Homo sapiens: one gene and its partners. The protein of the gene in region 1 binds, or shares a complex with, the protein of each later gene. Each region holds a gene or a part of one and is shown on either strand. Other genes may lie near its edges. The genes, in order: PBRM1, SMARCB1, SMARCD1 and ARID2.

Region 1 (8,102 bases):
CGTGAACCCGGGAGGTGGAGCTTGCAGTGAGCTGAGATGGCGCCACTGCACTCCAGCCTGGGTGACACAGCAAGCCTCCATCTCAAAAAGAAAAAAAGAAAAAGACATTTGCTCCAATGTGGCTATTTTGTTGAGATGCATTTGCAAAATCTGGCAACTATAGATTTTACTCTGGTTTACATTTTCCCAGTCCTTTCAAAAGGATTTAACTAGAAAATCAGGGCAGGGTAAGCTCCCCTACCATACTGCCCGTATCTTAACAGAGCTCAGCATCTGCACTTCTCTATTTCAATTCCCCTTGTATTGCTCACTTGAAAACTTCAGGACAGACTCAACGTCTGGATTACAACCCTACTAACCCTAGAGCTATGTTTCCAGAATTTACCTTTAGCTAGCAGCCAATTGTTTCTTCATTTTTGAGACGAAGTGTTGTTGCCCAGGCTGGAGTGCAGTGGCACAGTATCGGCTCACTGCAACCTCCGCCTCCCGGGTTCAAGCAATTCTCCTGCCTCAGCCTTCCGAGTAGCTGGGACTACAAGTGCCCATCATCATGCCCGGCTAATATTTGTATTTTAGTAGAGATGGGGTTTCGCCGTGTTGGCCAGGCTTTTCTCGAACTCCTGGCCTCAAGTGATGTGCCCACTTCAGCCTCCCAAGCAGCCAATTGTTTCTTAACCCCAACAACAATTTTAGATCTCATTCCCATTTTCTGCTTTGTAATTCTCTGTTCTGGGTTTTCTTTTTCCTGCTGCTCAAACTCAGATGCATAATTATGCATTTCATTTAAATATTTTGTCACATACGTTCCAATTTATTTCACTCTTGAACTAATACCCGACATTGTGTAGGTGTGGGGAATTTGTCACACTGTCATCACTTCCTAGATGAAATATACTACACAATAAGCTGGGTATAGCAGCTTACACTCTTTATTTAAAAGATGGTAAATACTGAATGGCAAAAGAATAGTAGAAACCAGTTGAGTCAGTTGTAAAAGTCACCTGGCTCCCCACTGCCTAGCACTGTCTCTGGCAAAGTGCACGTACTCTGGCTTTGCTGAGATCAGAGTTGGATCTAATCAGTCTTCAGTGACTATCAGACTGTTTCCTCGTACCTCACCCATGTACACAGAAGACAAAGGGTACCCTCTTTACTCACCTGATTTATTTAATATAAGTACCAGCTTTTTCTGTCCACTCTGGACAATGGCCTCTTCTACCTGAGGACATCTGCAACCAAGAGGATCTCTGGCATCCAACACCTCTAGGACAACATCGGAGGCTTCAATCACCTATCAAGGAAAAAATGACCAGAACTACATTATCAAGGAGAAAATGATCAGAACTACATCCCTTGTTCTGGTAATACCTTCCACAAGAGAGTACTGGCATTATCCATTTAGCAACAGGGTGAGCTCAGAGTTGGATCTCATGTCTTCACTTTGGTATGAAGAATGTTGACCCTCATCATTTCTCACACAGGAAAGTAAAACATAGGCTTGCTCAGCAGTCTCTGATCAAGATGGATTTCAAAAATGCAAATATCCCTGTCTGAATCCTCCCATAGTGAATTATATAGTTTGATAGGTCCTTCTGGCCTTGCCAAAAGCTGCTGAGGGGCAGTCAGGTTCTATCCATGGGGGAGTGAGCTTGGGAAAATGGATGTTGGGGATGGGAGTGCTGGAGAGCAACTACACCAAGTTGTCCTCCTTCACTTAGGTTTCAACAGAGTACTTTAGAGACCTTTAGCCTGACACTGCTTACTCCAATGTACCTTTCTCAATCTCAACACTATGTCAACGTTTTTTTTTAATGTTGTAAATCATGCTTACAGGCAGAACCAGTTTTGTGCAAATATTTAGAACCAAAGAAACTATTTCCGTCAGGTAAACATAGCAGGAAAGGCATTAAACAGCATAAGCTAGAGTCGAGTCACGAAATGATTTGTTGGTGAAAAGGTGGGAGGAGGGAGAGGATCAGGAAAGATAACTAATGTCGTACTAGGCTTAATACCTGGGTGATGAAATAATCTGTACAGCAAACCCCTATGACGCAAGTTTACCCATATAACAAACCTGCACATGCACCCTTCATCTTAAAAGGTTAAAAAAAAAATGACTTGAGTCTTTTAAACCTCATTACTACTGTCAGACACTGACCTAGGCTAAGATACCTTTTTAAGTTCTTGGCAGTACAGCTTCTTTGAATTCTGTTTGCCCGACTTGGCTTTGTTCTCAGTTTTGCAAAGCCCAAACTCCTAGAGGATAAAGGGGGAAATAACACAAAATTAGAAGTAGAGCAACTGTAACCTCTAACTCCATTTTCCACAGCTGAGTAGCAGCCCTTGCAGTTGTTAAATAGGTAAGATGGAGTCTGAACTCAGTTGTCTTCCTCCCAAGAAGCTCAGCAGCCTGTGGATGTGCTTTTATTTCTGCATCAGAACTCATCTCTCAGCCAGGCACAACAGCCCACACCTGTAATACCAGAAACTTCGGGAGGCTGAGTTGGGTGGATCACTTGAGACCAGCCTTGGCAATATAGTGAAAGCCCGTGTCTGCTAAAAAAAATTAGCCAGGCGTGATGGTGTGCTTCTGTAGTCCCAGCTACTTGGAGACTGAGGTGGTAAGACTGCTTGAGCCTGGGTGGTCCAGGTTGCAGTGAGTTGTGATTGTGCCACTGCACTCAGGCCCAAGCAAAAAAACCAAAATCAAAACCCCTGATCTCTCATTCATAAAGAGACCTAATCATACCTTTTCCATAGGTTCCACATTTGATGGCTTAATATCAGGATTAGTTTCAAGTTTTCTTTTCTTTTCTAGTTCCTTCTGCCTGTCAAGTTTCTGCTGCTGTTTTAGTTCTTCAAGCTGTCAGAGCCATAAGGGAAATAGGTGAACCAGTGACTAGTGTTGTTACCTTACTCTGAAAAATATCACACATAACACACTACACCACTCAATGAAAATTCTGGCTAACATAACTTACCCTCTGTTTCCTTAGCTCAGCTTCCCTAAGAAGAGCCTCCTTAAAGGGAGCACTGTTTGGAACTCCTGGGTCTTTCCTAGGCTTCTTGTGACCCCGCTTTTTAGCCTCCTTTCTTAATTTTCGATGATGTTCTCGAACCTATTAAAATAAAGAGATTTTGTCTGCTTACAAAAATATCTTTATACTTAAGCAGAATTCAAGTGAGAAACCAATCTGGCTGCAATTTAGTTATGCCTATAAAATGTCCTAGGAAAATGGAGCTTTAATTGGAATCTTACAAAGTAATGCATATGTAAGTATAAAACAGCAAGAAATTGTAACTAGAAGGCTCTCTATGCAGAGATTAACATGCTGAACAAATTTAGAGACTTATCACCAAATCACTGCACTTTCTCACAGCTGCACTCCTGATGCCTAAGAGCTTGTGCCCATGGTCAGTCTATCCAATGCCATTTCCCAAAACCAAATCACATTAACCCAGACTTTCCCGCAAAGGAACAGGGCAAAATCAGTTTAGCAATGTGTTTGGTACAGCTCTCTCAAGCACTACACTTACCTTTTTTTGGATTTTATACCGCTTATGGCAGGTCATGCGTTTACTTGCTTTCTTTAACTCTACAAAGAAACACATCACAAATCTGTTAACCCAAATGATTAGTTCTGGGTTAACGCACTATGGAGTTATATCCTTTTCTTGTGTTATTGGCTACCAAACCTAACGTTAAGTCTAATGCGAAATGCCTAATGCAAACATACGTGCTACTTTCAAATCCCAGAGAATTAAATTCAGTAGATCCAGAATGGAGTCAAAATTCCCTGCACTTACCCTCACAATATTAGAATGGGATCATACACAACAGCGTATGAGACACAAAACGACAACCACTTCGTGTCAAACAGCACGAATCATAAGGCAGGAGAGGAACACTGAGTCTGGGAGGCGATTCTCAGCTCTCACCTGGGCCAGTCTGCACGTGGCCACGGAAAGAAAATATTGGGCCTCAAACCTGGCTCAGACGCTGCTTCCTTACGAAAATCTAGCCTAGTCTTCCCCACCCTCTGCCCGGCTTCGTTCCGCAGAATGAGCCCGCGCGGTTAACATGATCGCCGTAGGGACTTCCAACTCTCGGTTCTACCAGGAAATAGGGCCAAGGCCTACGCGTAGGCTCCCACCCCCATACCAGCAGAGACAAAGCCGTAGCCGTAGAAGAGCGTCGTGGTGGCTGCAGCAACTTCCAGACGTGGGTCCCTCCACGCCCGCCTCCCGACCCCACTTACTAGGCCTTTTCATATTGGCTGTAGAAGGAAGCACAAACACATCAACCTGCCTCCGCTGGCGCCACGTGTGAACTGAAGCCACTGACGAGCGTCACGCACTTACGCTGCCGCCGTAAAGTGCGTCACCGCCTCTCTGCGTGCGCGGGCACGCAGTGTCGCGCGGAGCAGGGATCGCTTGGCGGCCGCGGGACTGGTTTTGCGGCGGCACCGGGAGGGGTAAGGGAGGTGAGGGCGGCGGGTGCCGAAGCGACGGCAGCGGCCGCGGCCGGAGGAGCAATAGCAGCAGCCGTGGCGGCCACGGGGCGGGGCGCGGCGGTCGGTGACCGCGGCCGGGGCTGCAGGCGGCGGAGCGGCTGGGTAAGGCCGGGCCCAGGGCGGGTGGGGCCGCTCCCCCTTGGTCAGCTGCCGGGCCTTTGTGTGGGCCCGGGCGGGCGGGAGCCGCGGCGGAAGCCCCGCCCCGGCCGTGGGGACGCGCGGGTCGGGCCGGGCGCGCGGGGTTGGGCGGGGCGCGGCGGCTGGCCTCCGGATGGGCCCAGTAGCCTTGTCGCACCTGCCGGCAGGGACAAAGGCGCACTACGGGTCGGAAACTCCCCGCGCTCCTCTTTCCCGCTCGTCGCGGGGCAGCTTCAAAGCTGTCAACGTTTCCCTCAGTCCCCAATACCAGTGACAGGTCGGGAAAGTCCTTCATTTCCTCCGTTGCTCAGGGCCTCTTTTTTTTGTTGTGGTTTCTTGACGGTTCGACACAAACTCTTAGTGATTTTCTTTCCGTATTTTTTCCGGGTATTTTAATCAATGGGACTTGTATTTATAGTAGAGGCCAGATATTTCAGCTTCTCAACACCACAAAGAATCCGGGATTTTGGGAACTGTGTATATTTCTTGGTTTGGGGAAGCACAGTTTTGTTATTATAATAAGTTTTAATTTAAAGGGGAAGAAAGAGTTGCAAAAATATAGAAAAAGCCCTGAAAAATAAGTACACGGTATAGTGGATATAGAAATTCTTACAATAATTATAGAAGCGTATGTTGGGGTGAATTGTTTTAATTAACTTACTTTCCAACACAGGATTCTTGACAAATAATTTTAGGTATTATTTTTTTCTCCATTTGGCTATGTGCTTTTCCCCAAAAAGTGCAAATTGGACTCATGCACATAAAAGAGTAGCATAATTTTTGCTTTATTACTTACAGGTCGCCCATATTTGATTTTGAGCTCCAAAATGGAAGATTGGAAAATATGTTTTGAAGAGGTGTTTCAAATTAAAACAATAAAGAGTTTATGTGTGGATGAATGGAAGGGCCTTGACCGCTTTCTTTGGCTTTGGGAATGTACAAAATACCTCAAATGTTAATATCCTACCAAAATTCCCAAGATAAGTAAATTGTGGTGTATCTATATGATAGATTACTATCAAGTCATCAAACATCATGAGGAAGAATGTTGACTTGGAAGAACCTTCACTAAAACACAGGCTGTAGAATAATATATGTGGTTTGTTAACATTTTGGTAAAAAATAATAGGTAACTAAGGCATAAATACCAAAAACCGAATGACAACGTTAAGAGTGGTTTTTTTCTTGGAAGTAGGTTTATAGGTGTTTTTTTTCCTTTGAGTCCTGTTTTCCAAGATTTTGTTTTAAACATGTATTGTATTGCTAAATATTACTAGAAATATAGGAGAGGGCTAAAGTTCATAAACGGTCGAAATACACTGTTTGTCTATAGTAAGTCGATATTCTCCCAGTTGCACATTATTAAGTATTCTTAACTGTCCACTATAAATTATTGATTGTTAGACTTTTGAACTTGTAACTGTAATCAAGGCCATTTTAAAACTTGGCATTGAACTCTGGAATCTGTCTTTCCTCTTCATGGAAAGACAAAATTGCTGAAGGGATGCTTACAGGCATTTTTTTTTTTTTTTTTTTTTTTTTTTTGAGACAAGGTCTGACTTTGTTGCCCAGGCTGGAGTTCAGTAAAGTGATCATGGCTCACTGAAGCCTTGTGCTCCTAGGCTCAAGCAGTCCTCTCACCTCAGCATCCCAAGTAGCTGGGATTACTGATGTGCAGCACCACACCCAGCTAATTTTAATTTTTGTAGAGAAAAGATCAATCTATGTTATCCAGTCTGGTCTTGAACTCTCTGCCTCAAGCGGTCATCCTGCCTCAGCCTCTCCAAGTGCTGGGACTACAGATATGAGCCCCTGTGCCTGGCTGAGGACTTTTAAACTATACAAATAAACTTTTTTTTTTGAAGGTCTCAAGTGCACTTTTTTTTTGTTTTTTTTGGAGACAGTCTTACTCTGTCCCCCAGCCTGGAGTGCAGTGGCGCAATCCCAGCTCACTGCAATCTCTGCCTCTCTGGTTCAAGCAATTCTCGTGCCTCACCCTCTCGAGTGCCTGGGATTACAGGTGCATGCCACCACCTTGCCTAGATAATTTTTTGTATTTTTGATAGAGACGGGGTTTCACCGTGTTGGCCAGGCTGGTCTTGAACTCCTGACCTCAGGTGATCTGCCCACCTCAGCCTCCTAAATTGCTGGGATTACAGGCATGAGCCACTGTGCCTGGCCCTAAGTGCACTTTTAATACATTTATTAAAAGATAAACTGAGCACATAACCTATACCAAATACTATCCTGTAAGACAGGTCTACAAAAATGAATATGCTGTTCCTGTGCCTGGGGAACATGCAGAAGTGATTTCACTTTATGTTGTTTTTTTTTTTTTCTTGAGACGGTCTCGCTCTGTCACCCAGACTGGAGTGCAGTGGTATGATCTCGGCTTGCTGCAACCTCTGCCTCCTGGGTTCAAGCAATTCTCATGCTTCAGCCTCCCAAGTAACTGGGTTTACAGGCATGCACTGCCTCAGCCAGCTAATTTTTTTTTTTATTATTTTTTTGAGACAGAGTCTTGCTCTGACGTCCAGGGTGGAGTGCAGTGGTGCCATCTCGGCTCACTGCAACCTCCGCCTCCCGGGTTCAAGCGATTCTCCTGCCTCAGTCTCCCAAGTAGCTGGGATTACAGGTGCGTGCCACCAAGCCCAGCCAATTTTTTTTGTATTTTTAGTGGAGACGGGGTTTCACCGTGTTAGCCAGGATGGTCTTGATCTCCTGACCTCAGGTGATCCATCCGCCTTAGCCTCCCAAAGCGCTGGGATTACAGACATGAGCCACCGCACCCAGCTAAATTTTTGTATTTTTCTTTAGTAGAGACAGGGTTTCACCACGTTGGCCAGTCTGGTCTCGAACTCCAAGTGATGCACTGGCCTCGGCCTTCCAAAGTGCTGGGATTACAGGCATGACCCACCACTCCCGGCATTACGTTCTTATTTTAGAGATGAAACAGATCTGAGAGGTTACATCAACTAATCAGACAACATCAAGCTGATAATCAGAGGTGGAAGACTTAGGACTCCTATTCTGGTCTTAGGAGCAAAGGTCCTGTTGTTTCTCCCACCTTATAACATTGCCCTTCTTGTCAGACTTTCAAAATACATTTTAAAATGTGTCCCATGGATAAGAAAATACTTGAAAATTATCCTTAAGTTGAAACTTTTTCTTATCTTACCAAAGTAAATTAATGATTCAAGGATATTGGGATATTGTGTCATCCGAACGACATACACATGCTGATAATGTATTTTTTTGTCATTTGATTTTCAGTGGATTATTTATAAAAGTAATTTTGAACTCCTGCCAAAATGGTTGGCCCTTTTTTTTTTTTTTTTAACCTTGTCAAATTTTTATATGGTGTCTCCAATGCAGATAGGACTTTTGGAAATAAATGTTCTTTCTCTGAATTTTTTTTTTGTGGGGGAGGGTGTTTTCCAGACCTTTTGC
Region 2 (8,230 bases), on another chromosome or scaffold:
CTCAGGTGCCCCCGGGGTCACTTCAGGGCCTCCCGAGGGTGACTGTGCTGGGCCCTGAGCCAGAGCCCCTCATGGCAGACAGGGTTGTGGGGTCAGCCTTGTTTTGGGGATGGGGAACTGGAAGGACAAGGACCACCTGCAGTTCTCAGCTGGTGGACCCTGGTGGGCAGGGCCCACCCCAGGCCTGGCAGGGCCCCGCTCCTCGCGGCCTCCCTGGGCTGCAAAAGCTCTAACTTGTGTCCTTTGGTTGTTGCCTCAGCTGAACATCCATGTGGGAAACATTTCCCTGGTGGACCAGTTTGAGTGGGACATGTCAGAGAAGGAGAACTCACCAGAGAAGTTTGCCCTGAAGCTGTGCTCGGAGCTGGGGTTGGGCGGGGAGTTTGTCACCACCATCGCATACAGCATCCGGGGACAGCTGAGCTGGCATCAGAAGACCTACGCCTTCAGGTAGGATCATGCATGAGTCTCTCCCTCCCTCATCTCCCTGCAAAACTGTTTTGAGAAAGACTTCTCTGTGTGAGCGGTGATACCTTTGAGGCTTTCTCACGCTTCGCAGCACAATCTGGCTGGGGTCTGTGTGTTTGCTCCGTCCTCCTCCTGCCCTATGTATCTCTCCAGGGCTCCGCTGTGCCAGGTAGGGTTAGAAGCACCTAACACAATAGCTGGCAAAGACTTGGAGTTCTGTCAGGGTGAACCTCAAGTCCTTGCCTCCACGGAGCCCTGGCCTGCCCCCACCATCCACCATTCAGTTGTCCTGCCCCACACCCTCTCTCTCTGCTCTTGCCCAGACTGTTATTTTGGTCAGGGTGACCCCTGCCCAGGGTTCTTCATCTGTTGAACTTGAATTATGTCTTAAACACAAAGGCCCGCCCAGCTTTTGAGAGTCAGGGGTCCCTAGCAGCTCCTTCTTACTCTAGTATCTCTGCCTTTGGTCAGTCAGAGAGCATTTGATGAGTACCATGCTGGGCTGGACCCCATCCTGGCTGCCCTGGAAGATAGAGACAGGTCACCTTGATCCCTGCCTGTAGCATTTGGGCTGGCTGAGATGGTGGAAGTGTGAACAGAATATTCCAGTCCAGTGTCCTCTGTGGTAGGGATGGGGATGGACCCGGGAGAGGCCCTCCTGTTCCTGGCAGGAGGTGGGACTCAGAGTTAAAAGTGAGGTCAAGGCCCAGTGCGATGGCTCACACCTGCAGTCCTAGCACTTCGCGGAGCTGAGGTGGATCACCAGAACCCAGTAGTTCAAGACCAGCCTGGGAAAAACATGGTGAGACCCCACCTCTACAAAAAAAAAAAAATAGAAAAAATGAGCCGGGCATGTTGGTACATGCCTGTAGTTTCAGCTACTCAGGAAGCTGAGGTGGGAGGATCGCCTGAGCTCAAGAGGTGGAGGCTGCAGTGAGCCAAGATCACACCACTGCACTCCAGCCTGGGTGACAGAGCGAGACCCTGTCTCCAAAAAAAAAAAAAAAAATAGCGAGGTTGAACTCTCCCGGCTCAGCAGGACTCTAGGACTGGGAAGCCCCGTGGTTCCTCACCCTGTCCTCTGTGTTGGGATGGGGTGGGGGTGCAGCAAGCATCCCTACATCAAAACAGGATGTTCAGATTTAGTCTGCTCATCAGACTATCATCATCCACATCTGCAGTCATCACTCAGGGATGACAGCTTAAAATGCTACATGAGGAGCAAATAGGAAGGTCTGTTTTGCAAAGCCATGACAATTAATGGAGCTCGTTAGGTTTGTGTCTAACTTGTTTTCCCAGACATCCCAAGAGACAGCTTTCTATGACTTCCCATAAATCTGAGCAAGGAAGAAGGAATGAGAGCCACCCACGGGGCTCAAGGGCCCGGGCCTGGGAAACAGCTGAGTCCCTGCCTGAGCGCCATGGTGCTGAGATCCTGTGACCTGCCCCCCAGCAGCCCTGCCAGTCACATGGTTCTGCTTCACAGACAGGGCAGCCCAGAGAGGAGGCTGGGGGGCTGGTGTCTGATGCCTCCCTGTTCCCTCGGGGTGTTGCCTGGGAGTGCAGCTGTAGCGTGCATTCACCCTGCACAGAGCCAAGCCCTATGGCCGGAGAGCCAGTCAAGGGTGGCCTCCCTCCACCAGAGTTGACTCTGAGGCCCCGGGAGGCAGTCATGTTGCGCGCATCAACACTGAGCACCTCCTCCCGCAGAGGCTGATCCAGTCAGAACCCTCGTCTTGGGCTCACAGGTGCAGGTGGTAGGCTGGCTGCCCCCAGCATCCAGCCCCTACGGTGTTGACCTTCACCTAGTCCTGCAGCCGCTGCCAGTGCCCACAGTCCAGGGTCAGGAACTGAAGTCCCCGGGGCCTCTTGACAGGTCCTTGCAACATCCCTTCTTTCAGCCACCATGGCACCATCCCTCCTGCTCTGACCCGAAGGTGACCTGAGCCTAAATTCCTTTCCAAGTTCCGGGCCCTCTGCAGTTTGCAGAGTGGCTCCAGAGCAGACCCCCTGGGGAGTCCCTGGTGGTGGCAGGTCAGGATTTAGAGGCAGAGGCGGGCCCCTTCTTTATCTCATCGACCACTTAGTGCATTCCAGTTGCAGGGCCTGGGGGCATCACAGACCCCCTGCCCCCTGCTCTCTCTTATGCTGAGAATGCAGGTTTCAAATCTTTGGGGTTAAAGGCAAAGGCCATCCCGCTGGGACCAAGGTGAGCACACGTCCCTATCACAGCAGCCAGATGGAGAGGCGGCCTGCCTGGGGAACTGGGAAGTGTCCTGAGTGGGCTTTTAGCATCAGGAGGGCTGCGTGTGTCTTCCCAGTCCCCACACTGGAAGACAGCTGCAAGGATAGGACAGGGCCTTAGGGTTGGGCTGTCATCCCTGACTCCAACTCGCGTTCCCCCCACTGTACCACCCCACCCCATGGGATCTTAGGAGGGACTTCGTTTAACTCTGTCCCCAGGGAGACCAGTGTCAGTCCTGCCTGGCCCTGCCTGGGGAAAGGAGGCTGGGCCACTGAGTCCCCAGGTCCAGGGGCCAGTCAGCCCACAGAGAGCTAGACCAGGAGTCCTGGCCTGGTCTCTGCCACACAGAAAGCTTGGCAACTGCTGTGTCACATGACTTTTTGTTTTGTTTTGAGATGGGGTCTCGCTCTGTCGCCCAGGCTGGAGTGCAGTGGCGTGATCTCGGCTCACTGCAAGCTCTGCCTCCTGGGTTCACGCCATTCTCCTGCCTCAGGCTCCTGAGTAGATGGGACTACAGGTGCCCGCCACCACGCCCAGCTAATTTTTGTGTTTTTAGTAGAGACGGGGTTTCACCGTATTAGCTAGGATGGTCTGGATCTCCTGACCTTGTGATCCACCCATCTCGGCCTCCCAAAGTGCTGGGATTACAGGCGTGAGCCACCGCGCTCGGCCACATGACTTCTTAAGAAGGGTTTTCAGGCTAGGCATGGTGGCTCACGCCTGTAATCCCAGCACTTTGGGAGGCCGAGGTGGGCGGATCACCTGAGGTCAGGAGTTAGAGACAGGCCAACATGGCAAAACCCCGTCTCTACTAGAAGTAGAAAAATTAGCCAGGTGTGGTGGTGGGCACCCGTAATCCCAGCTACTCGGGAGGCTGAGGCAGGAGAATTGCTTGAACCCGTGAGGCGGAGATTGCAGTGAGCTGAGATTGCACCATTGTGCTCCAGCCCGACAGAGCTAGACTCCATCTCAAAAAAAAGGGTTTTCAGCTCTGGACCTAGGTCACTCCATAATGGAAGCACTCGCTGATTCCCCAAGAGCCAGTCCCTCCATCTCTCCCAGCCAGAGCTCAGTGCCTGACTTCCATACCCTCCTCGGCAGTGGGGACATTGATTGGATCCATGGTACAGTGGGGCAAGCTGCTGGCCACAGGACATGTGTGTGCAAGGCCACTATGCCCACACCTCAGGGGAACCAGGGCAGAGAACAGCCTGTTCCCTTTGGCAGTGGGACAGACAGGAGACAAGCATGAAGGGGAAACAGGGGCATGTGACAAACTGGTCAGAAGCCCTAGGCTCCTAGAGGACAGACTGGGACCAGAGTGACACAGGCGTCCCAGAGCCAGTGGAGTGGGATGAAGGGCCAGCGAAAGGAGGGAGACAGGGCTCAAGGGGAAGGAGGCTGGGCTAGGCAGAGCCTCTGAGGAGAGCTGATCCTGCAAAGTTACTGGCACCTCCCCTGGGCCAGCCCTGTGTTCCTGGCCAGGGACGGGAGGAGACAGTGCCCTGTCTGGCAGAGGAAACAGATTCATGTGCATGACTATCAGTGTGCCATGGCCACAGAAAGCACCGGAGGCTGTGGGCATGAGGAAGGGCAGTTGGGGGCATAGAACCTGGGGTGAGGATGGCCAGGGCAGGTGCTGATGGGGGACTGCAGCAGGAAGGACCGAGAGGAGACCAGGGACAGGCAGGTGCTTGAGAAGGAAGGTGGGCCCTGTGGATCAGGCAGGGTATCTGCCCCAGGGGGCTCTGCACACCAGCAGTCCTACACGTACAGGGTGGGGATGAAAAGAGACTAAGGGTCAGGGAGCTTGGTAGCTGGGCCTGCATGAGGGACAGAGAGGCAGTGTCCCTCTGATGGCACAGCATCAGGAATTAGGCTGGGGTATGTCAGGTACACGTTGGGCTGGTTGAGCGTAAGCCTCAGGTTCCTTCCGAAGCTCTGCCCGCCAGCCCTGGCCTGATGTCAGGTTTTGTTTGTTTTTTTAACAGCTTTATTGTGATATAATTCATAAACCATACAATTCACACATTTAGAGTATATAGTGCAGCGGTTTTTGATATATGCAGAGAGCTGTGTAACTATCACCACTGTCAATTTTAGGACTTTTTCATCACCCCACTGCAGGCAGTCCCGTTCCTCCCCGCTGTCTCTCAGCCCTAGGTGTCCACTCATCCACTTTCTATCTGTAGATTTGCCTATTCCGGGTACTTCATAGAAATGGAACCATCTAATATGTGGTCTTTTATGACTGGCTTGTTAGCATAATGTTTTCAAGGATTATCCATGTTGTAGCATCTTTTATCAGGACTTCATTCTTTTTTATGATTGAATATTATCTCATTGCATGGATATACCACATTTTATTCATTCATCAGCAGATTGACTTTTGGGTTGTTTCCATTTTTCAGCTATTGTGAGTACTGCTGCTGAGAACATTTGTGTATGAGTTTTTGTGTGAACATCTGTTTTCAATTTTCTTGGATATATACCCAGGAGTAGAATTGCTGGGTCACGTGACAACTCAGTGGTTAGCATTTTGAAGAATTTCTAGACTGTTTTCCAAAGTGGCTGCACCATTTTGCATTCCCACCAGAAGCGTGCGATTCCCGTTTCTCTGGATCCTGCTGGCATTTGCTGTTCTCTTTTTGATCGTAGCCGTCTGAGGAGGTGTGAAGTAATTGTGGTTTTGATTTGCATTTTTCTAATGACTGATGATATTGAGCATCTTTGCATGTATTTCTGGCTGTTTGTGTATCTTCTTTGGAGAAAGTGCTTTGCTAGTTTCTTAATTGGGTTTTATTTTATTGTTGAGTTGTAATTGTTCTTTATATATTCTACATAGAAGTCCCTCATCAGATAGATACATGATTTGAAGATATTTTCTCTCATTTGGAGGATTGCCTTTTCACTTTCTTGATAGTGTTCTTTGAAGCACAAAAGTTTTCATTTTGATGTAGTCCAATTTATCTTTTTTTTTTTTTTTTTTTTTTTTTTTTTTTTTGAGACAGTCTCGCTGTGTCACCAGGCTGGAGTGTAGTGCTGTGATCTTGGCTCACTGCATCCTCCGCCTCCTGAGTTCAAGTGATTCTCCTACCTCAGCCTCCCAAGTAGCTGGGACTACAGGCACCTGCCACCACACCCAGCTAATTTTTTGTTTTTAGTAGAGACGGGGTTTCACCATGTTGGCCAGGATGGTCTCCATCTCTTGACCTCATAATCCGCCCGCCTCGGCCTCCCAAAGTGCTGGGATTACAGGTGTGAGCCACTGCACCAGGCCTGTAATTTATATATTGTTTTAGTTTGTTGCTAGTGCTTTTGGTTTCATATCTAAGAATCCATTGTCAATCCAGAGTCATGTTGCCCCAGCACCATGTTGAAAACTGCTCTTCCTCCATTGAGTGGACTTGGCACCCTTCTAAAAATCATTTGAGGCTCCTGGCGGCCTCGGAGGTGTGAATTGCAAACATAAGGGTGACACCAAGTTTTGGCATCTCCCCTTCCTGGTCGAGTGGCTGTGGACAGGTCATTTTCCCTTGAAGTCTGTATTTTGTCATTTGTAACTTGGGGATAATACTTGTGTGTTGCATCACATGAGGTCATGAAAGTGAGATCACATTGAAAGTAAACCTCAAGATACTCGACCGGCATCAGTCCTGGCTCCCTCTGTCCCTCAGACGTGAGCATCCCCTGCCTGGGTATCTTTGTCCCCACCTGGACACTTTGGGTGGTAGGAAGGTCTGGGGTCCCTGGCGGCTTCGAAGCCCGTGAACCAGAATTCCCTGGAAGGAATGGGGAGCAGGGTGGCTCCCAGGGTCCCCAGCACTCTTTGGAACTCAGGACAGCATCTCCATGCCCACATGCCCCCAAAACCCAAGGCAGGCTAGTGCTGGCTCTAGGCCCGTTCTTACATGGTTGGTGCGAGCATTTCTTACTTTAGAACAAACCCACTGGAGTGGAATATTCCCAGCATCAAGGGGAGGTAAACAAAGGACCCTCTGGGACCCACTCGCCAGCTCTTGTTTAAGAGGAAAACATGTTTTGCTCCCCTCGTTGTGGGCTTGGTACCTTTCACGTCTGCCCTCCAAGGAAGGCTGCTGGGAGCCCTCACGGTGAGGAATGATGTTTGGGGTCTGAGGCTAGGGTGGTCCCTAGACTGCTAAACCACCCGGTGCTGGCCAGGGACCAGCTGTCAGGAGCTGCTGAGGATGGGTCAGCCCCAGAGGGTGGGGGTGCCGACATTGCCTCTGGCCCTGCCTCTGCGTCACCAGTACGAGCTTGAGCTTCTGCGACTCATGAGCATGGACCTGGTGGGCTGAGCTTCAGCTGTGAGGGGTCAGGCCTGCTGCAGGGAGAGCCAGCTGCAGCCAGTGCCCTGCGCTGTGCCCACAGTCCCTGAGACCCCAGGCTGAGGAGAGCAGCACTGAGCCCAACCTGGAACGGGCTCACGGCTACTGGAGCTGGGTGTGTGCTCACTGGTGTGGATGTGCAGAGCCGGGACTCGCTCTGCAAGCAGGCTGGTCCCACAACCTTGAGCCACCCACTACAGGGAGGCTGTGAGAAGGTCCCTGGCCCCTAGGAAGCTCCCTCAGTGGAGATGTTTTGGCTGCTTTAATAACAGTCATCCTTCCAAAGCCCTTCACAGCAATAAATGTTTCCATATTCCAGATGAGGTTTGCAGGGACCTGTCCTCTCTATCAGTGTCCACCTGGCGCCTCCCCCGAGTCCGGCCTGCCCTTGCTTCTCCCAGAGCTCATGGTGTTTTTCAGGGCCGCAGGCTGGCAGGGTGTCCTTCTCCCAGGGGACTGAGCCTAGGGAGAGCCAAGTGGAGGTGCCCAAGTGGAGGAGAAAGGAAAGGACCACAGAGAGGGGAGGGGAAGTGGGAGAGTCATGGTTAGGACCTCAGGCTGAGGCCTTCTGCCAAGCCAGGGGTCTGGTGTCACTCAACTGGGAAACACTGTCAGCACCCAAAGCTGCTCTCAGAGGTGGGGGTGACGGGACCACTGCATGTGGGAGGCACACGGGCCCTGTGGCATCCACAGCTGTGGTCTCCTTAGTGTCCTGTCACAGACTTGCAAATCAAAGCCCAGAGAGGCGGCAGCCAGCCACCCTCCCACCTCCCCAGCACTCCTGTGCCCACCCCATGCCTGTTTAGCCTCTGCCCTTGCTGCCCCCTTCCTCTGCTGTGTCCTTTTGGCAAGAGGAAGGTACCTCGGGGCAGATTTGGGTGGTCCTTGTGAGACCCAGGGCAGAGTGTGGTCCGGGGATACGGCTTCTGTCCAGCTCCCTGCCAGACAGCTGTCTGATCCTAAGCACAGACCAGCCTCTCGGGGGTTTTGTTCGGCCAGGAGGTGGGCTGAGGGGCAAGTGTGTGGAACATGCAGGAACAGGCTGTGCAGTGGCCCTCAGTAGTGGGGGGCTGGGGACTTCTGGGAGACTCCTTTGCTCCCATTCGCCATCCATCCCCTTTCCCTGATCAGTGGGCCCTGGCTCTGGACACTGAGTGGAGCAGACAGT
Region 3 (7,152 bases), on another chromosome or scaffold:
CCAAGTGGGAAGCAGGCAGAACTGCAGGCGAGTTTCAAGTGATTGCTAATGGGAATCCCTCCTGAGCTGTCTTCCAAACTCTGCCAAGGAGGGGCTAGTTGTCTACAGTATGAGGATGACAACACAGAACTTCCATGGTGCTCTTAAGAACCAGCTACTCAGGAGGCTGAGGCAGGAAAATCACTTGAACCTGGGAGGCGGAGGTTGCAGTAAGCCGAGAACGCGCCATTGCACTCCAGCCTGGGGAACAAGAACACAACTCCATCTCAAAACAGGCAAACAAAAACTGAACTCTTATTTGAACCATGAAAGCGGAACCTTAGAGTAGCAGGCACAGGCTGGGCACGGTGGTTCACACCTGTAATCCCAGCACTTTGGGAGACCGAGGCGGGCGGATCACGAGGTCAGGAGATCGAGACCATCCTGGCTAACACGGTGAAACCCTGTCTCTACTAAAAAATACAAAAAATTAGCCGGGCATGGTGGCAGGCGCCTGTAGTCCCAGCTACTCGGGAGGCTGAGGCAGGAGAATGGCGTGAACCCAGGAGGCAGAGCTTGCAGTGAGCCAAGATCGCGCTACTGCACTCCAGCCTGGGCAACAGTGAGACTCCGTCTAAAAAAAAAAAAAAAAAAAGAGTAGCAGGCACAAAAAGCAAAAATGTCTTTGGTCGTCCAGATCCTGCCCACATCTAAACAGAAGCCCTGGGGAAGAAGTGAAACTCCTCCAAAGGCGGCTCAGGTTCGTCAAACCTAAGGGATCACGGGCATCTATGGCTCACTCCAGCCAACAAGTGCTCTGGGGAGCTCAGATGGACAAGGGGGAAAATGACTGCCACCAACCTGTTAGTACCTGCCTAGCAAGTCGGGAAAGGGCTCTTAAGATCCAGTGGTGAAGCCCAATAATCCCAACCAGCAACTAGGCTGCTTGGACCACTGGGGCAGACAGCAATCTCTTAAGGTAAGACCCTGAGGTCCACAAAAGTAGAAATCTCATTTTCCACTTTATCTCCCGTGTCTAGCATCACAACTAGCACATAGCAGGTGCTCAATAAATACTTGTCAAATAAAATGAACAAACACTACAAGCGTGGCTAATGGTATTGAAGGAAGAAGAGCTCAGGGAAGAGCTCTCTCACAGTAGGTAGGAGGACCCATCCTTCAGAAGATTCTTTTATTAAAACTGGGTAACATCAATAAGGGGACAGTACAAAAAAAAGTTTGGTCCATGAAAAAAACAATTCAGTTAATAAAAACAGTTATCAACAGGGACACTGTGGGAAGTACTGAGCTTCCTTCTCATGGTTCCAGCCAGGAGGCGGCCAGGGCTCAGCTGCCCCAAGGTTGTCCAGTGTCAACCTTTCAAGGGAGGGAAAATGGCAGGAAGGGGAAGACGGGGAGAAAATTCTGCTGTCCCCAGTGTAGAACAGGGAGGGATTTGGGGGTGGGGGTGTGCTCGCAGGAGCCTGAGGAGGGGGTGGGGAAGCAGGGGCTTTGTCAGTTCTGTGGGTTTAGAGCCCATGCTGAACGGAATTCCCCCTTTGTGCCCAGCTGTCTCCCACCCTTGCTGTGTTGAGTCTGCGAGCCTGGGATATGCTAACTCGGGGGTGATACAACCTGGAAGAAGAATGTGAGGCTCTCCTGGAAAGATGCAAAAACCATCTCAGATCCAAGGGGCCAAGATCACAAGGTCCTGCTGCTACCTGAGGGGTCTGAAGCTTTGAGGGCAGGGGCTGGGGAGTCACAATCCTGTGAGGCAGGGAGAGGGAAGAGTCACAAACCCAACTCAGCGCTATTCTCCAGCCCTAGGCGCTTTCACTCCTCAGTGCCCTAGAAGTCACCAGTAGGTGTCAACTGGGCAGACAAGGGACAGGAAGACAGGGATGGCCCAGGGCTTTTTACCCGTTTGGTTTTAGGCCCGTTTCTCCATTAAGGGATGCAGAGGCAGGGTGGAGTGAGTGAATGAATGAGTCACATCTCCAAACAGCAGGAAGGAACAGCCTCTGCTGGCAATGACAGTTCCCCAGATGAGATCCCTGGGGCTCTGAAAGGGAAAGGCAAGATTCCCCCACCCAAATGCCCGGGATTAGGGCAGATCTGAGGGAATCACAAAGGGCAGCCACAGGGAGTGTCTGGGAGGGAGCAATAAAGAACAAAACTCCAATACTGATGTGGACCCCAACTAAGGAGTGAGAGAAGCACTGACAGCAGGCCAACCCAGAGGGCTGGGGACTGACCTGGGGCTCAGTGGAGCCCAAGAACCAGGGTTTCTGTAGTGCTACAGGGCAACAAGTGAAGGGAGAGTTTGTTCCAAACCTGTGGAGGGAAGGAAGGAAATTGGATTCTGTTATCAGGAGAGCCAAGATCAACTAGCTTATAGAGTGCCCACAGGCCTGAGTCTTGGAGAAGGAGCGAAAGCTCCCAACTCCTGGGTCTCTGAAGGGCAGGATCAGTTAGCTGGTCCCCTTGAAGACCACCTGGCCTGAGGCCCAATCCATTCCAAGCACTCATTACCACTACATGTTCTCTCTCTAACACTATCTAGAGGTCCTATGTAGACCAGGGGAGGGTACAGGCACATGGGAACTTTGTGGGGCAAAGGGAAGCTGGGGGTGGGAAGAGATAGGGTGAAAGAAGAGGATAACAGGTGTCTTGTGAGACCCTCTTCATTCTGGTGTTGTCCTTGAACCAACAGCATCCCCTGGAACGCCCCAAGCAAGACCAAGGCAGATACTATGAGGCAGGCAGCACAGGGCCCAAATCAAGAATTGGTGCAGTCGAATCAGGGCTGTGGGAGAGGCCCTATGTATTCCGGATTCCCAGGGCTTGCTCTAATTCTTGTCGTCTCTGCTGCACCTAAGGAGAAAATAGTGAAGGGAGTGGAAGATGAGACAAACCAGAAGTTGGTATCTAACACCACTGACCCCCATCAGGGGTGAAAACCCCGTGCCTTTTGTCAATTTCCCCCGTGCACCCCATGTACTTACCTTGGAGTAGAAGTATCGGCACACAGCCTCCTGAGCCCAGGGCTGGAAGTAGAACTCAGCTCGGCGCTCCTCCTCTGGGTTACCCACCACATCAGTCATTGTCTGAGGGAAATGGAGATGCAGGGTGGAGGAAGAGAGAGGAGAAAAGGCTTGTTTCCTTCCTTCACACCCATTATTGGGTAAATTGTATCCTTCCCCAAAATGTTGAAGTCTAACCAACCCCTAGTACCTGTGAATGTGACCTTATTTGGAAATAGGGTCTCTACAGATGCTCAAGTTAAGATGAGGTCATTAGAGTACCCCCTAATATGACCGGTAGGTTCCCTTATAAAGAGGGGAAATTTAGACATGGAGACAGACACATACAGAAGGAAGACAACGTGAAGTCACACAGAGACCACCACCTACAAGCCAAGGAATGCCTGAGGTACCAGAAGCTGAGAGATGCACAGAACAGAGTCTCCCTCCCAGCTCGCGGAAGGAAGCAGTGCTGCCCACACTGATTTTGGACTTCCAGCCTCCACAACTGTGAGACAAGCCTGTTGTTTGAAACTGCCCAGTTTGTGGTAGTTTGCTACAGCAGCCTCAGCAAACTGATACAACACCCAGTCACCTCTGCAATCAACAAGTCGTTGCCTTGTTCAGGGATCTTTCCTGGCATCCCTTTTTCCTTGCTCCTCTGCTCAGCCTCTCTAACTCGTCACAGTCAGCACAGGAGGGGTGACAACGGATGAGTTCATACTCTGTGCCCATTCCTATCTTCTTGTCTGAGCTTACTGTGCTCCCCTTTCTGGGAACGTCTTCAAATCCCAAATTTTCCATGAAGCCTTCCCCAGAGATTCTAGTCTCACTGATCTCCCTTATCTGAATCATCTTATTGGTCCTGGTCAGTCTAATAATGTCTTTTTTTTTTTTTTTTTTTTTGAGATGGAGTCTCACTCTGTCAGCCAGGCTGGGAGTGCAGTGGCGCAATCTCGGCTCACTGCAGCCTCTACCTCCCAGGTTCAAGCGATTCTCCTGCCTCAGCCTCCTGGGTAGCTGGGATTACAGGCACCCGCCACCACGCCTGGCTGATTTTTTTATTTTAGTAGAGATGGGGTTTCACCATGTTGGCCAGGCTAGTCTCAAACTCCTGACCTCAGGTGATCTGCCCTCCTCAGCCTCCCAAAGTGCTGGGATTACAGGCGTGAGCCACCGCACCTGGCCTGATAATGTCTTATGTGGTTTACTACTTTGTATCATACTAGCCTAGTTTCTTTTTTTTGAGACAGAGTTTCGCTCTGTCACCCAGGCTGGAGTGCAGCGGCACGATCTTGGCTCACTGCAACCTCTGCTTCCTGGGTTCAAGCAATTCTCCTGCCTTAGCCTCCCAAGTAGCTGGGATTACAGGCGCGCACCACCACGCCCAGCTAAGTTTTTGTATTTTTAGTGGAGACGGGGTTTCGCCATGTTGGCCAGGCTGGTCTCAAACTCCTGACCTCAAGCGATCCGTCGGCCTCGGCCTCCCAAAGTGCTGGGATTACAGGTGTGAGCCACCATGCCCGGCTATACTAGCCTAGTTTCTTCAGACAGAATGTAGGCTGCTTTGAAAGCAGAGATCAGGTCTTCCACTCTGTATCCCTGACAAGATGAAGCACAGTGACAGACAAAGTAAGCACTAAATCAACACTTGATGGCTCTGCCCCCATTTCCCTGCTTAATTGCAAAATGGACCCTGGAACATGCTAAAGAAAAATCTGGCCCCTCACTCCTTCCTCTGGGTCTCCTACCAGCTGCTACATGAATAAAGCAGCTGTGCACCTCACTGACCTAAGTCCCTTCAGACCTCTCCTAGGTTCTTTACCTTGAGGTCCCTGCACTGGGACTGAAGCCAGTCATTGATGAAACCCTGAGGGTCTCTGGCAAAGCTCAGCATGAACTCCCGCTGAGTCTTCAGCTGGTTGATGGTTTCTATTGTCTCATGGATCTGAAAGGAAGAACGAAGCTCATACCATTTTCAAACTAGAAAAATGAGAAGTTAAATGGCAGGTGGTGCCTGACAACTCCACATGCCACTTCCAACCTAGTCACCATGCTGCCCACAGCTGGCACCATCATATAGAGCTCCAACTGCTCCGACCCTTGGCATTCTTTCAGCAAGTAATTTGCCCTTGTTTCTGTCTCTCTGTATACCCCATGTGAGGAAAGCTTTCCTTTTGGTCTCCACATTGCCCACTATGGGCAAAGCTACATGATGAATACTTACTCCACAGCACAAATGGGTCCAAAAGTGTTCTCAGGAAGAAAAGGACTGGCATATGGGGCTGTCTCATAAGCTCTCATCTCTGGGTTTTGTTCTCAACTCTCTTCTCATTCTGCATACTCCTCCCGGCAATTTCTTTGACTTGTATATCTTCCATTACCAGTGACAGGGTAATGAGTCCCCAGTCTGCAGCCCAGAGTCTATCTTCTATACTCCAACCAATCCAACTGCTTAAACTTGACATTAAACTCACTACCGTTTCTCCAATACCTGCTCCTCCTCCTCCCCTCTTCCCAGTCATAGTAAATACTACTGTCCACCCAAGCTAGAGACCTGGGAGGCATCATAACATTTCCTTCTCATTCATCCCTCACTCTAATAATCCAAACAGTGGCCAAATTCCTTCAATTCCACCTTGACACCTCTCAAATCTATCTACTTATCTCCACCCTCACTGTCGGGACTGTAAATTTAGGGCCTCAACACGTCTCACATGGATTACTGCACCAGCCTCCTAACTGGGCTTCCTGCCTCCAGCCCTGCCCTCTTGACAAATTATTCTCCATCCACCTTCCTGCAAGTGATCATTCTATATACAAATAGCATCAGTCCCTCCACTGGTAATGATCTCTCAACCAGCTGTCTTACACAGTCTTCGGGATGAAACATAAACCAGTTTTCCCTGAATCAAAGGTTCTTCATAATTAGGCATCTGGCTCCCTATCTAGCTTTCCTTCCCAAAACATCCCGTCCTCGGCACTCTATGCTGCATCTAGCATACTAAATGGCTCGTACTTCTTTAAGACACCAGGCTCTCTCTCTCTTCTCTGGACCTTTACATGCCCTATTCCCTCTTTCTGGAACGTCTTCTGCCTCCTATGCCCCCAGCACTACTATCCTTTTTGCCCTTTCATTAACACCCACTTTGTCCTTCAAGATTTAGTTGGGGCCGGGCGCGGTGGCTCACGCCTGTGATCCCAGCACTTTGGGAGGCCGAAGCGGGTGGATCACCTGAGGTCAGGAGTTCAAGACCAGCCTGACCAATATGGTGAAACTCCGTCTCTACTAAAAATACAAAAATTAGCCGGGCGTAGTGGCAGGTGCCTGTAGTCCCAGCTACTCAGGAGGCTGAGACAGGAGAATTGCTTGAACCCAGGAGGCGGAGGTCGTAGTGAGCCAAGATCATGCCATTGCACTCCAGCCTGAGCGGCAGAGCAAGACTCCATCTCAAAAAAAAAAAAGAAAAGATTTAGTTGGGGCATCAACTCTTCCAGCAAAGCCTCCCTTTCTCCTTCATGTTCCCAAAGCACTTTTGGCTTTATTTGCAAGGACTGCGTCTAGTAATAACAACCCAGATAACAATAATAGTAGCAGAAGTTACCATTTGTTGTTTTTATGTGCCAGATACAGTCTCAAGTCTTTACACACACTCCCTCATTTAATCGTCATAGCAACCTGATTAAAATAGGTACTATGGGCTGGGCGTGGTGGCTCACGCCTGTAATCCCAGTACTTTGGGAGGCTGAGGCGGGCAGATCACTTGAGGTCAGGAGTTGGAGACCAGCCTGGCCAACATGGTGAAACCTCGTCTCTACTAAAAATACAAAAATCAGCCGGGTGTGATGGTGGGTGACTGTAATCCCAGCTACTTGGGAGGCTGAGGCAGGAGAATCGCTTGAACCCAGGAAGTGGAGGTTGCCGTGAGGCGGGATTGCACCACTGCACTCCAGCCTGGGCGAGAGAGCGAGACTCCTGAAAAGAAAAAAGGAAAAAAAAGGTACTATGGTCTCTATTCCACAAATCAGAAACCGAGGCTCAGTGCTGTTGAGAGTATCCCCACAATCAGAATTCATTTGAGTCTGGCTCAAACCAGCACCAAGCACAGTACCTGACATATACTGGGTGTCACCGTATTTTGAATGAACA
Region 4 (8,286 bases), on another chromosome or scaffold:
CAAAAGTTTGACTCTTTAATGGTGTAAACTACAAATTATACCAAACCACTTAAGAACTCTTGATAGACTACCTATTATTTGCAAGCACACTGGGAGGTACAAGTTACTCTAAGCCACTAACTACTGTTTATGAAGTTCTATGTGGTCTGATCTGAGCTCAAGCGTATTGCAAATTCACTTAATCTATGAACCATTATGGAAAGTGTGATCAACCTGAGCCTTACTACTGAAAAAGTTAAATTCATCCCATTTTTAAAATATTACAAATTAGGTATTTTCTGGACAGGGCCCTAGCTATGGTCTCTTCCTTGACCTATTGTAATAGAAGAATGTTCCCACTGATCTCATGTATGTTTATATTAACATTTTATTTATTTAAAATTAATCGCTGGGCTAGCATAGAGACAGAATAAAATTTCACCCAAAAACACTTCACCATGAAAGATACGTATTATTTAATAAAGATCATCTTTGTGCACACAGCAATTGACTACTGGCCACTATATATAAATACTTATCAAGTATGACAGTAAGAACTCAGAAAGACCAGAATTATGAAACCTGGCCATATTTTACAATAAGATGTTTATCCAAACAATAGATTACACAACTTTATTTGAATTCTTCATAAAAAGTAACTTTCTGCACTCCAGCCTGGGCGACAGAGCCAGACGCTGTCTCAAAAAAAAAAAAAAAAAAAAAAAAGTAACTTTATATTTTATCCCAATTATATGGTAGTTTTAAAAATTATTTACTGATACAAATAAAAGCCAAGCACACCTGGAACATGGAATATACCTGCATAAGATGAATAGCAACTATGGATAATGTAGGATTATCTATAAGACAATTAAGACAATGCTCTGGCCGGGCGCAGTGGCTCACGCCTGTAATCTCAGCACTTTGGGAGGCCAAAGCAGGTGAATCACCTGAGGTCAGGAGTTTGAGACCACCCTGGCCAACATGGTGAAACCCCATTTCTACTAAAAAAGCAAAAAAACAAAATAATTAGCTGGGCATGGTGGCGGGCACCTATCATCCCAGCTACTTGGGAGGCTGAGGCAGGAGAATCACTTGAACCCAAGAGGTGGAGGCTGCAGTGAGCCAAGATCACACCACTGCACTCTAGCCTGGGTAACAAGAGCGAAACTGTCTCAAAAAGAAAAAAAAAGACAACACTCTGTAAAATGTACAGCAGGTCTATCAGCAGGGAAGGGAATGGGAAGGTGAAGCAGGGAAAGTAGGGTCTGAAAATATGTAAAATATCCTTTCCTGACTAGCAACTGTGGCTGACACTTAAGGCTGGGAGTTGGATATAACCTAAAGCCTTAAAAAAAAAAAAAAAAAAAAAAAAAAAAAAAAAAGTAGCCCATATGCCCCAGGAAGAAAAAAGTTTGGGTGGCATAAAGAATTTTTTCCCTTGCTTTTATACATAAAAAAAGAAAGAATATTTTTCCTAGTTGTTATTTTTTCTAAGATTAAATAACACAATTACTTCTCAAATTTGAAATGATAAAAATAAAATCTCCGGCCAGCCGGGTGCAGTGGCTCATGCCTGTAATCCCAACACTTTGGGAGGTCAAGATGGGTGGATCACCTGAGATCAGGAGTTTGTAGACCAGCTTGGCCAACTGAAACCCCATCTCTACTAAAATACAAAAATTAGCCGGGTATGGTGGCACACGCCTGTAATTCCAGCTACCTGGGAGACTGAGGCAGGAGAATCACTGGAACCCAGGAGGTGAAGGTTGCAGTGAGCCAAGATCATGCCACTGCACTCCAGCCTGAGTGACAGAGAGCAACTCCGTCTCAAAAATAAATAAAAATAAATAAATAAAATCTCCCATATGAAAATGTTTTGAAAAACAAAGCTGGTGGACATTAAACAAAACAGGTTATTGTTAGTATTATTACTTTCACAGGAATTTATACATGTTAACTCTACTACGAAATACCAGGACAGACCAACAAAATTTTCACAAACAAGCATCCAGTAAATTCAGTAAAACAAATGGTACCCCATTTGGAAAGAATATAGTAAAGTTCTATGAGAAAAAAAAACCATACATATATGTAAAGAAAGTTCTCCAATTAGGAATAAGTGAGGAACACTTATTTTTAATTAATTTTTTTAATCCAAATTACATAAACACACTTAGGATAAGTTAGAATTTGGTAGTTCATTTACTCTTTTTTTCCCTTAACTAAAGTGGAGCCCTTGTTACCTTCTCTAGAGTCCAGAGACAAAGTATAAGTGTGTCCAAGCTGTGGTCAGAGATGACAGGTGCAGCTTGAGCAGGTGCCCCTAGACCAGATGTCACCTGGAGGTTTTGTTCTGGATGTAACCCTGACCAATATGTTCATGCCATGTTAAACTAGTCATCTCAGCAACTAAATTGGTTTCATTACAATACTTAGATCAACTGTTCTCAAACTTCAGTGTACTTAAGAATCACCTGGAGCACTTTTTGGAAATACATATTAATCAAATTATTAATACCTAAAACCACTGTTCAATCTTAGCATCACTAAAAGGGGACAACTAAACATTATATGCCTCATGATATGATGAAAAGCACAGCAGTACCTATCAAGTATGCCTAAAATATTAAATCTGAATATTATTAACCTTTAGATCTATCACTTTTCAGCAAATATGTATGAGGGATAGAGGAACAAGTTAATTGACACCAAAAGAAAGCAATCAAAGCCAGAATTTAAGACAGTCTAAAGAACAAATTGACCCCTTTACTCCAAATCAATGGTATAATGGGGAAAAAAAGGGCGGGGGGAGAGGGAAGGCAGCAGCCAAAACATCAAAACCAGCACATTCTCCCTGGGGCTCCACCAAAAATTTCTATGGCAGTAAGATGGGAGTGAAGCCCTGTAAACGCTGACTTAGATATTCATGGAATATGGGTCTATCATTTTTGGTCAACAATTCAGAATGTGATAGCTATTCCTGGACATCACTAAGAGACTTCCATTCCAGCAATAGTTTATTGCAATGTATTTAGTCAAATGAATTATCAATTCACAACATAATGAATACACAGAAAGTATCCAAGCACAAGTGAAATTTATGTTTTAAAACAGAAAAAAGTTTGTTATTTCTTTTATCACATTATAGTTTAAACAGTAGAAAATGTATAGTTGTGCATCTCTTAGGTTGGTGCACAAGTAATTGCAGTTTTGGCGATGGTGTTACACTATTTACTGTGGGGTGAAACACTGGTGAAACACTATTTACTATGGGGAAGGGAAGAGAAGTAGTAATGTTTCCCCAAAATGTCTAGAGATCCACAATACACATTAGCAAAATAAAGTCTCTAAGAAGTCCTGCAATAAAGTAACCCAAGTTTAGCCTTTTGCTCAAGTTCATTTCGTCTTCTTTTCATGGAAATATATTAACATTTCTGGAAAACTAGTGTTTCTAGAGTACAAACTCTAGTTGGCCCTGAATACCAAAGACTGTGGTGATCAAAGCAGCAAAAGGAGAATCCCCTCAACCCCATCCGTCTGCTCCATTTATCCTCTATGTCCTTCCCAATTCAGACAAAATCCATTTTTATCATTAAACTTTAGTAGGTCTGGAAAACACCCAATAAGCACCTTCACAATATAATTAAAACTTTTAAATACTTTACCTAAAAATATATATTAAGTACCTGCTCACTGACTAATGAAATGCAGTTAAAACTGTGTTTTTCCTTCCTTTCCAACTTCTAATTTCATTCAGTTTGAGAATATAAAATATCTAGTAGCAATATACTTTTTTTTTTTTTTTCAGACGGAGTCTCGCTCTGTCACCCAGGCTGGAGTGCAGTGGCACGATCTCGGCTCACTGCAAGCTCCGCCTCCCGAGTTCAAGTGATTCTCCTGCCTCAGCCTCCCGAGTAGCTGGGACTACAGGTGCATGCCACCACGCCTAGCTAATTTTTTGTATTTTTAGTAGAGACAGGGTTTCACTGTGTTAGCCAGACTGGTCTTGGTCTCCTGACCTTGTGATTCGCCTGCCTTGGCCTCCCAAAGTGTTGGGATTACAGGGCGTGAGCCACCACGCCCGGCCACAATATACTTGTCTATCAAAGACGTTATAGATTTCACACGATCAACTATGAAAATACTGAATCCACAACAAAGCAGAGATAGGATTATGAAAGAGTGCTTCTATTCAGGGACATTTTTAGTTAACAGCTAAGGTAGAAAATTTAACTGCAAAAAAAAAGCATATAAACATTTTTGGGAATTATAATGTTCTCATTTTGTATCCTCAGGAAAATTTGTAACCTCAGTGAAAACTATCTGTCTTAGAAAGAACTCAATTTATTTCTACTTTGGGCAATTTAAGCTCTAAAAACATGGATTCTAAGACATAACACTAACCTAGCTGAGCTTTGATAAGTCTTTCAACTTTCTCCACTTTCTGCTCTTCCTTTCAACAAGTCTGCATGTCCTTTAAAAACGTAACAGAATATCAGAAAATATCAAAATCAGGTTTTTTGTTTTTTAAAATGGATACACTGCCAGGCTCAGTGGCTCACTTTTGTATCCGAGCACTTTGGAAGGCTGAGGCACAGTGGCTCACTTTTGTATCCCAGCACTTTGGAAGGCTGAGGCGGGAGGATACCTTGAAGCCAGGCATTCAAGACAAGCATGGGCAACAAAGCAAGACCCCTGTCTACACACACACACACACACACACACACACACACACACACACACGATACAGTTTATAAAGTTAAATTTGAAATACATGCATGAATAACTTATTGATATATTTGTCTTCCAATCTCCATATACTTTTATTTTCCTTCCTTGAATAAGAAGGGCAATCAGTTTATTCAGTTCCGTTTAGCAATTTACAAACTCAGTGCTTATATACCTAAGGCTTTCTCTTAAAAGAATTGATCTATATGGTGGACACTAACTAGAGAACACATGAGTGTATTCATTCAATTTAACTAACAAATGTAAACTCCCTCAAATGGTGTAATTTAAGAAAGAGCTTTACCCACCAAGAAAAAAAAAATAGAATAAATTCACAATGCGATTGAAAATGTACTATGGTAAACATAACTCTACAATTAAGTTTCTGACTATTCTAAAGGTAGGTACATATAAATAGAAATGAATATTTCAGTGCCAGAAAACTAGTAACATATAGTTTTGTACAATAAATTTTTAATGTCCAAGATATTTCACCCCCTTTCCAAAAAAATCAAGTTTTATAAAGGAAACATCAAGTTAACCTTGACTATAGCTGTAATATTGGCATCAGTAAGCAAAAACAAAATTTTAAAATATTTGAAATATTTACCTAAATCTTCATACCAAAACTTCAAATTCTTAACCCAGATAAGACCAGCAAACTGTCCCCCAATTTCAACAACAAAACAGAACAAAAAATTAAAATCCACCAAGTAAATATGGAACACATTAGGCAAAGAGATACTTGGGCATAAATTTAACCATAAGTAATTTCCAAATATTATTGAACACGTCATGAACACAACATTTTGGTCCAATTAATGAAATGTTCCCTAAGCCATTTAATTTTTTTTTTTTTTGCACTTTAATATCTCCATCTACAAAATGTGGGAAACTATACCTTATCCTTTCATACTATAGGAATATCCTAATAATAAACATTGGTGGAACACATTGAGATGTACATGCCAAGAAAAGGAACTACATGAAAATAAAGTGCATAAACATCACAGATGATTAGTATCCAATTTTTAATTTATTTATTTTATTTTATTTTATTTTTTTGAGAAAGAGTCTCACTCTGTCGGCCAGACTAGAGTGCAGTAGCACGATCTCCGCTCACTGCAACCTCCGACTCCCGGGCTCAAGCAGTTCTCCTGCATCAGCCTCCCAAGTAGCTGGGATTACAGGCATGAGCCACCATGCCAGGCTAATTTTTCTATTTTTGGTAGACACGGGGTTTCACCATGTTGGCCAGGCTGGTCTCAAACTCCTGACCTCAGGTAATCCGTCTGCCTCGGCCTCCCAAAGTGCTGAGATTACAGGCGTGAGCCACCGCACCTGGCCTCCAATTTTTAAATAGACTGCTTTTACACATTATCTGTAAGCACTTTACTTTTTTTTAATTTTTAATTTTTGTGGGTACACAGTACGTGTATATATTTCTGGAGTAGGTGAGAAACTTTGATACAGGCAGGCACTTATATTTGTAAAAATTAAATGCCAATGTTAAAATAATCAATTGCATTTTCAATTTTAGACTCTAAGAAATTTTTGTAGACAAGCTATAACTGAATAAATGTATATTTGAGAAAATTAAGTTAATGTCTGGCAGACCATTAATACTCAAGTCTATATTTAATGACTGTCAATATTTGTATCAAAAATAACAAAACACTATTAAAATATACATGGCCAGCATACTAGCTTGCTCTTCCTAATTTAAATTATCTGTAATATTATGAAGATATATCATAAAACACTAGGCTAACAGCCATCCATCCAATTAATAGCAAACTTACAGGGGAATGTGAGCAAATATTAAACTTGTAAAGGAGGAATAACACATATAATGACAGTCTTACAATAGGTCAAATGAAAAAGCAGTTCATATTAAAAAATTATTCCACTTGTAATTTAAAAAACACACTGCATTATCTGCTCATCAGTAATGATGATATTCAATCTGACGTAGCAAAGAGGTAACTTATCAAGTCACTCGATTACTATTTCTTACTATGAAGAGCCAATCTTATGGGTAGGTAATAGAATTGCTGTTACTTGGCATCTTGTCTGCCAATTAAGATTTTTCAGAGGAAGGTGTAAAAGCTAGCATCATATATATCCTCTTACTGTGCAATATTAGACCACCAGGAAAAAATTCTTTCAAGGTTGGTAGTACCTAAGTTTTGACCAGCATATTTCTTTTGTATTTCTTTACAAGCCATGCAAATCTTCACATGGTTTTATTTTCCAAAACAAATGCTTCAACTTTTTTCCTAGTAGCCTAGCTACAACCCTGCAAAAACAAACCTAGAGAGTGACATATGGAGGAAAAACAAGTTTAACTAAGGACATAGTTCAAAAAGCAGCTTCTAATAAGAGCAAAAAGCCCAATTTGATCTGAAGACCATGTAAATACTTACAATGTTGAAACTATATAGTTAAAAACAGTACCTATAATTAATGATATCCTCCCAAGATAAAAATGACAACTGGAAAAACAATATTTATAATTAACTTTTGTTAAAAAAAATTGGAAGCCTAGATATTAATTTGATTATGCTAAAACTATTAGTATGAATGTAAACTCTTCAGAAAAATATACATCTCATGAATCATGTATATTCTATAGTACTTTCTGGTTATAAAACTTAAGTCAATCAATCTAACAAATATGAAGCAAAACTTCAAAAATATGTATTTCAAACAGTCCAAAATTCAAATGCTTTAAACTGATAAAAACATAAAACCAGAATATGTATTAACATGTTCCTCTCAATATCATAAATAGAAATGAGCAAATGAATGTCACGATGAATATAAAACTCTCTTGTTTCTCACCCCACTACTAACTCAACGGTTTTGGAGGTTAATTTTGCTTTTTGATTTAGCCCTTTAATTTAAAATGTACTCTGACACAAATGCCATCACACACACACAATAGATGACAACCATATTTAATATTTTCTAGACTTCCTGTGTAACTCAATAACTACTCCACAAAGTTCTGCGAACTCCAGCTTCAAGCCTGAAGTCAATCTAAGATAGCCAATAGAAAGTACACCTGTGCGATTACTGCATTTCCTATTTCAGAATGCTGAACGTAATACACAATAACTGAGTGCATCTGAAGCAATAATAAATGCAAAACTCAAATTATGCAGAAGCCACCTTACAAAAAAAGGCCTGTACTATCACTATTAAAAAGCAATAAATACAAAGAATATCATTTTAGTTTTTAATAACACCAACTAACTTAGGATCCTCTAAGATAAGCACTTTAAAAATAAAACACAGCATCATGATAAATTACAGTATGAAAGTATTCCTAGAAGAAAAACTAGAGGCAAAAAAAAAAACGCTAAATCACAAAATATATCATCTAGACTGTATCACATACCAACTGAATAAGAAATTAAACTTTGCCGAATAAGCAGTCAAAGAAGAAGAGGGAGAATGAAAGAAAATCCAGATTATAGTATCCCATTTCATAGTATCCCCATTTTCCTAAAGATATAATAATTTAAATTATCTAATTTAAATTACTAATTTAAGTCACTGGAAATTCAACAA

Evidence for each region.
Region 2: PBRM1 (region 1) and SMARCB1 share a complex: the UniProt entries of both Homo sapiens proteins name them as parts of the SWI/SNF-B (PBAF) chromatin remodeling complex.
Region 3: PBRM1 (region 1) and SMARCD1 share a complex: the UniProt entries of both Homo sapiens proteins name them as parts of the SWI/SNF-B (PBAF) chromatin remodeling complex.
Region 4: PBRM1 (region 1) and ARID2 share a complex: the UniProt entries of both Homo sapiens proteins name them as parts of the SWI/SNF-B (PBAF) chromatin remodeling complex.

Annotation. Positions count from the first base shown.
Region 1 is NC_000003.12:52,682,263-52,690,364, reverse strand, and holds the start of PBRM1 (protein polybromo-1), read left to right. Parts: upstream 1-4,451; 5' UTR 4,452-4,616; intron 4,617-4,765; exon of another isoform or gene 4,766-4,929; intron 4,930-5,450; exon of another isoform or gene 5,451-8,102. Other genes in the region: GNL3 (guanine nucleotide-binding protein-like 3), read right to left, coding at 1,159-1,291, 2,173-2,256, 2,750-2,863, 2,982-3,119, 3,538-3,596, 4,260-4,272. UniProt on the Homo sapiens protein: Involved in transcriptional activation and repression of select genes by chromatin remodeling (alteration of DNA-nucleosome topology). Required for the stability of the SWI/SNF chromatin remodeling complex SWI/SNF-B (PBAF).
Region 2 is NC_000022.11:23,824,966-23,833,195, forward strand, and holds part of SMARCB1 (SWI/SNF-related matrix-associated actin-dependent regulator of chromatin subfamily B member 1), read left to right. Parts: intron 1-259; coding exon 260-450; intron 451-8,230.
Region 3 is NC_000012.12:50,094,648-50,101,799, reverse strand, and holds the end of SMARCD1 (SWI/SNF-related matrix-associated actin-dependent regulator of chromatin subfamily D member 1), read right to left. Parts: intron 4,951-7,152; coding exon 4,828-4,950; intron 3,087-4,827; coding exon 2,985-3,086; intron 2,854-2,984; coding exon 2,800-2,853; 3' UTR 1,093-2,799; downstream 1-1,092. UniProt on the Homo sapiens protein: Involved in transcriptional activation and repression of select genes by chromatin remodeling (alteration of DNA-nucleosome topology).
Region 4 is NC_000012.12:45,731,858-45,740,143, reverse strand, and holds part of ARID2 (AT-rich interactive domain-containing protein 2), read right to left. Parts: intron 1-8,286. UniProt on the Homo sapiens protein: Involved in transcriptional activation and repression of select genes by chromatin remodeling (alteration of DNA-nucleosome topology). Required for the stability of the SWI/SNF chromatin remodeling complex SWI/SNF-B (PBAF).